Linked DNA regions of Homo sapiens. The protein of the gene in region 1 interacts with the protein of each later gene in a biochemical or structural test. Each region holds a gene or a part of one and is shown in the gene's direction. Other genes may lie near its edges.

Region 1 (4,498 bases):
TCCTAGTCCACCATCACTGCTCACTATGGTCAAGGTCCTACCCAATCTGGCCCCTGCTACCACAACCCCCTTCAGCTTGTTCCAGCCACATTGGCACTGGATGTTTCCTCTTCCTGGCACATTCTTAAAAAAATGTGTTGATCATAAAGTGAACATGACCCTTTGGGAATTAACTGGAGTTCTTGTATTCCCTCATCTGTAAAATAGACATTATATTATCCACCCCACTGGATTGTTGTGAGGGTTGGATGAAATGATGCATGTAAACAGCTTAGTTAAGAGTTGGGTACAATCAGTGAACAAATGATTATGAATTAGTGCTTTTATTGTAGTCAGAATCATAAAGATTTGACAGGTTCCCATATCCCACCTCTGCTTGGACTACCTCATTTGCTCATATGCAAACATTATTTGGTACCTACTGTGTGTGCACCATGGGATGGGCCTGCCTCTGTGGAAAGTTCTTGGGTGCAGGGGGAGACAGCCATGGGCACTGATGACATCAGGTAGTTATCGTGAGTTTTGGCGGTGTCCAGAGCAAAGGGATGGTGGCGTATATACCAAGTGTGTTCTGGTGTGGGGGTGGACACGCACCAGGGCTAGGGCTGCAGAGAATGTCTGTGTTGCAGATCTAGGTTTCTCCATGATCATCGGTGGGAATGTGTTTTGTCTGCAAGTGTATGCTCATATGAGTTTCCCTGGGTCTCTGTGTGTCAGTGTGTTACCTGTGTGTGTGGGGGTATGGGTGTATGCATGCATGTATGTAACATGCCCATGTGTGTTACTCTGGACTTGTATGTCTGTATGTATACCTAGATTGGCGTGTGTTCTGTCTGTACATGCCCTCGTATGTTTCCTCACTTTTGTGTGTGTTTATATGTGTGTCATTTCTTGTGTGCCTCCAGGCCCCCCTTGCCACCTTGGGCAAGGGTGTGTACACCACCCAAGTGTCCACCTCCGCTTGTCTGATGCTGTCTGTGACGCCCCCGCTCTCTGCCTAGCTGAGCCTGTGTGGATGTGGGAGACTAATCTCCCCGCGGGCACTGCGTGTGACCTCACCCCCCTCTGTGAGGGGGTTATTTCTCTACTTTCGTGTCTCTGAGTGTGCTTCCAGTGCCCCCCTCCCCCCAAAAAATGCCTTCTGAGTTGAATATCAACACTACAAACCGAGTATCTGCAGAGGGCCCTGCGTATGAGTGCAAGTGGGTTTTAGGACCAGGATGAGGCGGGGTGGGGGTGCCTACCTGACGACCGACCCCGACCCACTGGACAAGCACCCAACCCCCATTCCCCAAATTGCGCATCCCCTATCAGAGAGGGGGAGGGGAAACAGGATGCGGCGAGGCGCGTGCGCACTGCCAGCTTCAGCACCGCGGACAGTGCCTTCGCCCCCGCCTGGCGGCGCGCGCCACCGCCGCCTCAGCACTGAAGGCGCGCTGACGTCACTCGCCGGTCCCCCGCAAACTCCCCTTCCCGGCCACCTTGGTCGCGTCCGCGCCGCCGCCGGCCCAGCCGGACCGCACCACGCGAGGCGCGAGATAGGGGGGCACGGGCGCGACCATCTGCGCTGCGGCGCCGGCGACTCAGCGCTGCCTCAGTCTGCGGTGGGCAGCGGAGGAGTCGTGTCGTGCCTGAGAGCGCAGCTGTGCTCCTGGGCACCGCGCAGTCCGCCCCCGCGGCTCCTGGCCAGACCACCCCTAGGACCCCCTGCCCCAAGTCGCAGCCATGAACTACCTGCGGCGCCGCCTGTCGGACAGCAACTTTATGGCCAATCTGCCAAATGGGTACATGACAGACCTGCAGCGTCCGCAGCCGCCCCCACCGCCGCCCGGTGCCCACAGCCCCGGAGCCACGCCCGGTCCCGGGACCGCCACTGCCGAGAGGTCCTCCGGGGTCGCCCCAGCGGCCTCTCCGGCCGCCCCTAGCCCCGGGTCCTCGGGGGGCGGTGGCTTCTTCTCGTCGCTGTCCAACGCGGTCAAGCAGACCACGGCGGCGGCAGCTGCCACCTTCAGCGAGCAGGTGGGCGGCGGCTCTGGGGGCGCAGGCCGCGGGGGAGCCGCCTCCAGGGTGCTGCTGGTCATCGACGAGCCGCACACCGACTGGTAAGCCACTGCCGCGGACGTCTCCCGTGGGCCTGGGTCCCCAGATCGTTCTTCTGCGAATGAGCAATTATCGAGCGCCGCTTGTGTGCCTGACACCTGGCCCTCTCACCTAAATCTTTTTCCTTTAAATTATTAAGCTGGATGCTTCCTCTGTGCCCCGCCCTTGTCGCCCCCCTCCGCCCCTTAAACCTTGATGGATCCAGGGAGCAATTATCAGGCACCTGCTGCGTACCTGTTCCCTACTACCCCTCCCCCAAAAGTCTTTGGCTTCAATATATCCTATGAGCCTTCGAAAACCGAACGTGTCCTTCCTACCCTCCCCAACCCTTGCCCCATAGGCCTTGTCCTCTAATGGATCTTGTGAGCACTTATCTAGTACCTGCAGTATGCCTCATCCAAGAGCCCTTCCCCAAGGCCTTTGATTTCAATGAGGTTTGTGAGCATTCTTTGAGAGCCTGATACTGTCCTGTTCTCCTCAACCCTTGCCCTGAGGCCTTCTCTAATGGGTCTTGTGAGCATGTGTCCAGTCTATGCTATGTGTCCCACCCCAGCTCCGTCCTTAAAGCCCTTTTAAACTATTTAGTAAACATTGAGTACCTGCTGTGTATCCCACCCCAGCTTCTCTCCAAAAGCTTTGCCTTTCATGGATCCTGTGAGTTTTGATTGGATGCCTTCTCTGTGCCCCAACTCCAAGCCCTCTCTCTGAGGGCCTTTTCTCCAAAGGATCTAGGAAGCATTTGTTAAGTGCCTGATACGTGCCGCACCCCCAAACCCCTTCTCAAACAAATCATTTTCCTCCAGTGAGTTCCATGAGCAGTTTTGAACCTTCTTTGTGTGACTCATCTTCAGACCGTCTCCTCAAAGACCTTTCCCTACAGTGGATCTAGAAAACATTTATTGAGTGCCTCTTGTATCCCCCGTTCTCCAGCTACTTCTTCAAAGACCTTTCCTTTGGTGGATCCATCTAGCATTTATCAACTGCCTGCAGTGTGAGCCTTCTCTAAAAGTTCTTTCCTCCAGTGTATTCAGCAAGCATGCATTGACTGGTGCCTGCTGTATACCCCACCCTCAAACCCTTTCTGCAATACCCTTTCCTCCAGTGGCTTCAGTCTGCATGTATTGAGCACTTTCTGCATGACCCAACCTTAGACCTCTCCATAAAGGCCTGTGCCTCCAGTTAATACAGTGCTCAGATATCTGGCACTTGCTGTGTGTACCATTCCAGTCACTCTTTCCAAAGACCTTTTCTTTTAATCACTCCTTGGAGTATTTATGGAGCACCTGCTGTGTACCTGATTGTGTGCCTTCTTCACAAAAGCCTTTTCTCCTATGGATGAAGAATCGAGCTCCCATAGATCAACTTTCTGCACTCCCATTTCCCCTCCCCATAGGACTTTTCCTTCAGGGATGCAGTGAGCCTTGATCAGGTGACTATATGTCCATCCCCAGCCCCACTCCCCAAAGGCCTTTTCTTCTAATGGATCCAGTGAGCATTTATTCCTTGTCTGTCATGTGCTCCATTTTAATCATCCTCCCCCAAAGACCTTTTCTTCCAATGGCTCCCCTGAGCATTTATGGAGTGTCTTCTGTGTGTTCTGTATATTCACACCTCCTCCCCAGAATTGTTTTCTTAACAGTAGATCCAGTGAGCACATATGCAGGACCTGTTGTTTTGGGGAGTACATTCTTCTTCCTTACCCCTAGGAGAGCCTGTTCCAATCACAAGGCCTCTCCCAAGGTCCTTTCCTGTGATAAATCCAGAGCTGAGTTTATAATGATCACCCCTTTCCCACTCCCTTCAGTACCCCTAGGATTCCCTCTACCAACTTTAATTCATACCCCCAAAGGGCTTTTAGTCTATTTAAGTAACACTTACTTAAGTAAACACTTTTACTTAATAGTTTTACTATTGACTTAATTTACTAAATAAATTTAGTAAATTTACTAAATTTACTATTTACTTAATAGTTTTACTATTTAAGTAAACACTTATTGAGCACTTACTGTATAAGTCACTTTCAACTTCCTCTTTCCAAGTCTCTGGAAATCCCTGACCCTGCCTCAAGAGCTCTCTCTCTAGGGGTCTACTTCAGCCTAAATGTATTGAGTACCAGCTGTTTACTGGTTAGATTACCTCTCCCCCAGGAGCCTTTACCGAGTAGCCTTTCTCTCCATTCAGAGCAATTTATTCATTCTGCAGATATTTATTGCATCCTTTCCATGAAAGTGTGGGAGGCATTTATTATGCACCATTATATACTAGGAATAACCCTTCTTCAGCTCCCCTTCCTTCTTTTTTTTCTAAATGCAGGTGTGCTTGAAATCCTCACCTGCCAGCTGGCCTTGCTATACCTTTTCCTCCATGCAACCCCACAATCATTTAATGAGCATTTATC
Region 2 (3,813 bases), on another chromosome or scaffold:
ACGGCTGTATTTACTGCCCTTGTTCATCAGCTGACGGCTGCAGGGCTTTGCACCAGGATGCTGTTTCCACCAGACACAGCTGCTGACTCACTCTGCAGCTCTCTGCTTTGCTCTGTGGTTTGTAAACCGTTTAGTTTTTTTTTCCCCCTTTTTTGCTCAGTCTGTACCCCTTTGCTACCCTGTTTCTCTCCCTTTCTTTTAACAATATTAGGAGATTACTTTCCTCTGTAAAATTAAAGGAGTGCCTCTGTCTTCTTAAAAGCCACAGCCGCTCCCTTTCACCCACAGGGTTCTCTGTAGGTGGACAATGCTGCTTGCCACTGTTTTTTACCTCCAAATATGTTTTATTTTGGTAATTACCCTAAGAAAAAATTAGTTCCTCCTTACTGACATCGCAAGGATGTTATTAAGAGAGAGTAAAAAAAAAAAATAGATCTGAAGGGTTTACCCAAGAAAGGTGAGTCCTAAGGTAGAGGTGGTGATGCTACTCAATGAAAGCTCTTGTCTTTCAAGAACTTCTCTTTGTAAATCCTGGTTTGGCCCATGAGTGACCCAAGCCACTTTTAGGCTTTCCTAAACCCTAAGCATTCTTGTTTGGAAATCTCTATTCTATATTCTAAAATGCACCTCGTCACACATTAAATGTTATTGTTTTGGAAGTAAAATAAGAATTTAAAAATTGCTCTTAAAATTTTATGACTGAGAATAATTCCTTTACCACTGACAATTTTTTAACAACCATTGTTCATTTTTGAGAATTCTTGCAGTGAGAAATTTTGTTCTACACACTGCAAAATGCAGCGAATTTTGTTACAAATATTAAATTTAACAATTAATGAGTTTGACATGATGTTACTCTTTCTACCATTTACTTAAACATTCATTGATTTTGCATTTCCAGGTTTCTTTCAAGGTTTGAAAGCTGATGAATTTTGCTTACAGTTCTCTTATTTCTATAGACCCTCCCTTGAAATTCTCACAGTCCTGAGCCCTATGTCTTTATGGCTACTGGGTAAAATAGTCAAGTGAGAAATTAGCTCATCCATCCTTTGGGCATAGAGTTTGCTGCCACAAATTTAGGTCCCCTGCTTTCTAACTCTTCAGAAATAGGAGAGACATGAGATCACTTTTGTCCACTGATTCTGTCCTACACACGTTTATAAGAGAAATGGGTGAGGGACAAATTGCTAAGAGGCAATGCCAAGGTTTGAGTAGATTCCAAGTGTGATTTCGGCAGGTCTGTGGAGTTGCTTTCTCTATGGGAGAAAGTTGACGCTGAATATTTATTTTCAAACAACCGTATGTGTTTATATTGAAGCATCTGTTAGACTGTTAAATCAAAAATCCATGCCTTTTCCTATTCCCAGGTCATATACGGAATTTTTTCAAGTTGTAATTTTTTGGTTACAATATATATACTAAGACCATATGGTTTTCTCATACCATTCTTTGTATTTTCTAAATGCATATTAATAAAATGTTGGAGGCAACAAAACTTGATTGGGAACAGTTTGTATATGTGGTTCTGAAAAAGCAAAGGCTTCCACTTCAATGAGCTACAAGCTGTTAATACATTTCAAATGTGTTGCTAGACTGAAAATGAGCACTTTCCAGCATAGATTCAGAAAAAGCTGACCTTTCTCACAGTGCTATTGTATGGATAAATTCACAAAAATATCCATGTCCATGTAGCCAACATGCAAAGCAGAGTTTATAAGTTGGGTGATATGTACAGGAGGCTAGCGAGGATTTAGAAGAAAATGAACGTAAAATTGATTTTTACAGTATATTACTTCCCTGAGTAGATGTCAGTTAAAGTTACTTTAATCATTTTATCACATCGATTGATATTACTTACACTATAATAAAAGGTAATCTTTTGGTAATAAGTCTAAGGCAGTGCTGTAACTGGAATTTGGGAGGAAAGACCCACCTCCCATCTGTTCTTAAGCTTCTGAAATATGTTCAGCACAGCTTAGCTTCTCTTGGTACGGATACTGCTGTCAATATTTACATGCTGCTGTCTTCTAGGGAGCCATAAACTATCTTCAAGTATTGTAACATAGCAGCTAGAATGATGTGCCTAGATTTTTCTTTGAATTTCATAAAACAAAGCTGTATCTGTATGATTTCAATGAAATCAAGAAAATTCTGACTTTGTCCACCCAGCTAAATGTGATCTCTTTGACAAAGGAAGAGTCTCATTCAGCTTCCCAAGGGGACTTGCAATCACTCATTGTTGGGGTTTTTCTTCTGGAAATGCTGCTTAACACAATTGGCGTTGCAGCACACAGGCAAGGCACTGGTTTCCGTTACGATGCGCTTGCCCAAATACTGGAACTGGGTGATCTGGTTTGAAAAAGAGCCAGCTTTTTTTTTTTTTTTCCTAAACTTCCTCATTTTGAGTGGGTTAATTCTGTTCTAGGAAAAGTTTTCACAGAATTGCTTTCTGAGCGCCAGCAAAATGTTATGTTAGAAATAATGGTGTTTACTTCCATTCTCGATTTTTTTCCATAAACTTTTAGAAGTTCATTTCCTAAATCTAACTTTTATTATCTTACTTGACCTAGCCAATATAAATGGCATTAAGTCATTATTGCCATCCACATAACAGTACTTTGTGCTTCACAAAATAGGAAAAAAAAATATATAGCTCTTTCATCCCCTAAACACCAGGTTGATCTGGCTGTTCTTTTAAGGACGTCAGAAATGGATGGAAGCAGCCTGAACTTTGCCCCATATGAATTCGCTGCATTCCATCTAGGTCTTGAATCTGTTAGATCATCGTCCTAGGTCGGGTTCCCTTGATGCAGAGCTTGGGGTAAGCCTGCTTGTGCAGGTGACTGATTAACGGCATGTTCTCAGGAGAGAGAGAATGGGAAGTGCTGCAGGGGCAGCGCTAAGGAAGTTTCTGGCCTCCTCCAAGCCTCCTTGCAGCTGGACGCTGTTTCAGCCCAATCCCACGGGAGCCCTGAAGCCTGAATAGCGTCATGGAGTTGGTCTTTCCTTGAGGCAAGGGGGCCGGCCCGTGGTACCCCGTTCAGTCCACCCAGCTGTGGGATACCTGGGGGTGGGCGAGGCGGCGGCTCTGTTCAGGCAAGGGCAGTTCTCTGGAGAAGTGGGTGGCCATGGAACGAGAGCAGTCCGCACCCCTGCAGCTGAGGGATGGACGGACAGGCCTGGTGAAGGGAATGTGGGCGGCACACCAATAGCACCTCCTTCCGTCATCACAGAGAGCCTCTTTCCCCTGGAACCTGTGCTCACTGGAGTTTTCCTTCCTCTCCTGACCTCATTAGGCAGTGGCCAGATCCAGCTTTGGCAGTTCCTCCTGGAGCTCCTGTCGGACAGCTCCAACTCCAGCTGCATCACCTGGGAAGGCACCAACGGGGAGTTCAAGATGACGGATCCCGACGAGGTGGCCCGGCGCTGGGGAGAGCGGAAGAGCAAACCCAACATGAACTACGATAAGCTCAGCCGCGCCCTCCGTTACTACTATGACAAGAACATCATGACCAAGGTCCATGGGAAGCGCTACGCCTACAAGTTCGACTTCCACGGGATCGCCCAGGCCCTCCAGCCCCACCCCCCGGAGTCATCTCTGTACAAGTACCCCTCAGACCTCCCGTACATGGGCTCCTATCACGCCCACCCACAGAAGATGAACTTTGTGGCGCCCCACCCTCCAGCCCTCCCCGTGACATCTTCCAGTTTTTTTGCTGCCCCAAACCCATACTGGAATTCACCAACTGGGGGTATATACCCCAACACTAGGCTCCCCACCAGCCATATGCCTTCTCATCTGGGCACTTACTA

Evidence for each region.
Region 2: the proteins of SYN1 (region 1) and ERG form a complex in vitro, tested with the Homo sapiens proteins (one large-scale study listed by BioGRID).

The regions. Positions count from the first base shown.
Region 1 is NC_000023.11:47,616,956-47,621,453, reverse strand, and holds the start of SYN1 (synapsin-1), read left to right. Parts: upstream 1-1,596; 5' UTR 1,597-1,725; coding exon 1,726-2,102; intron 2,103-4,498. UniProt on the Homo sapiens protein: Neuronal phosphoprotein that coats synaptic vesicles, and binds to the cytoskeleton. Acts as a regulator of synaptic vesicles trafficking, involved in the control of neurotransmitter release at the pre-synaptic terminal.
Region 2 is NC_000021.9:38,383,407-38,387,219, reverse strand, and holds part of ERG (transcriptional regulator ERG), read left to right. Parts: intron 1-3,296; coding exon 3,297-3,813. UniProt on the Homo sapiens protein: Transcriptional regulator. May participate in transcriptional regulation through the recruitment of SETDB1 histone methyltransferase and subsequent modification of local chromatin structure.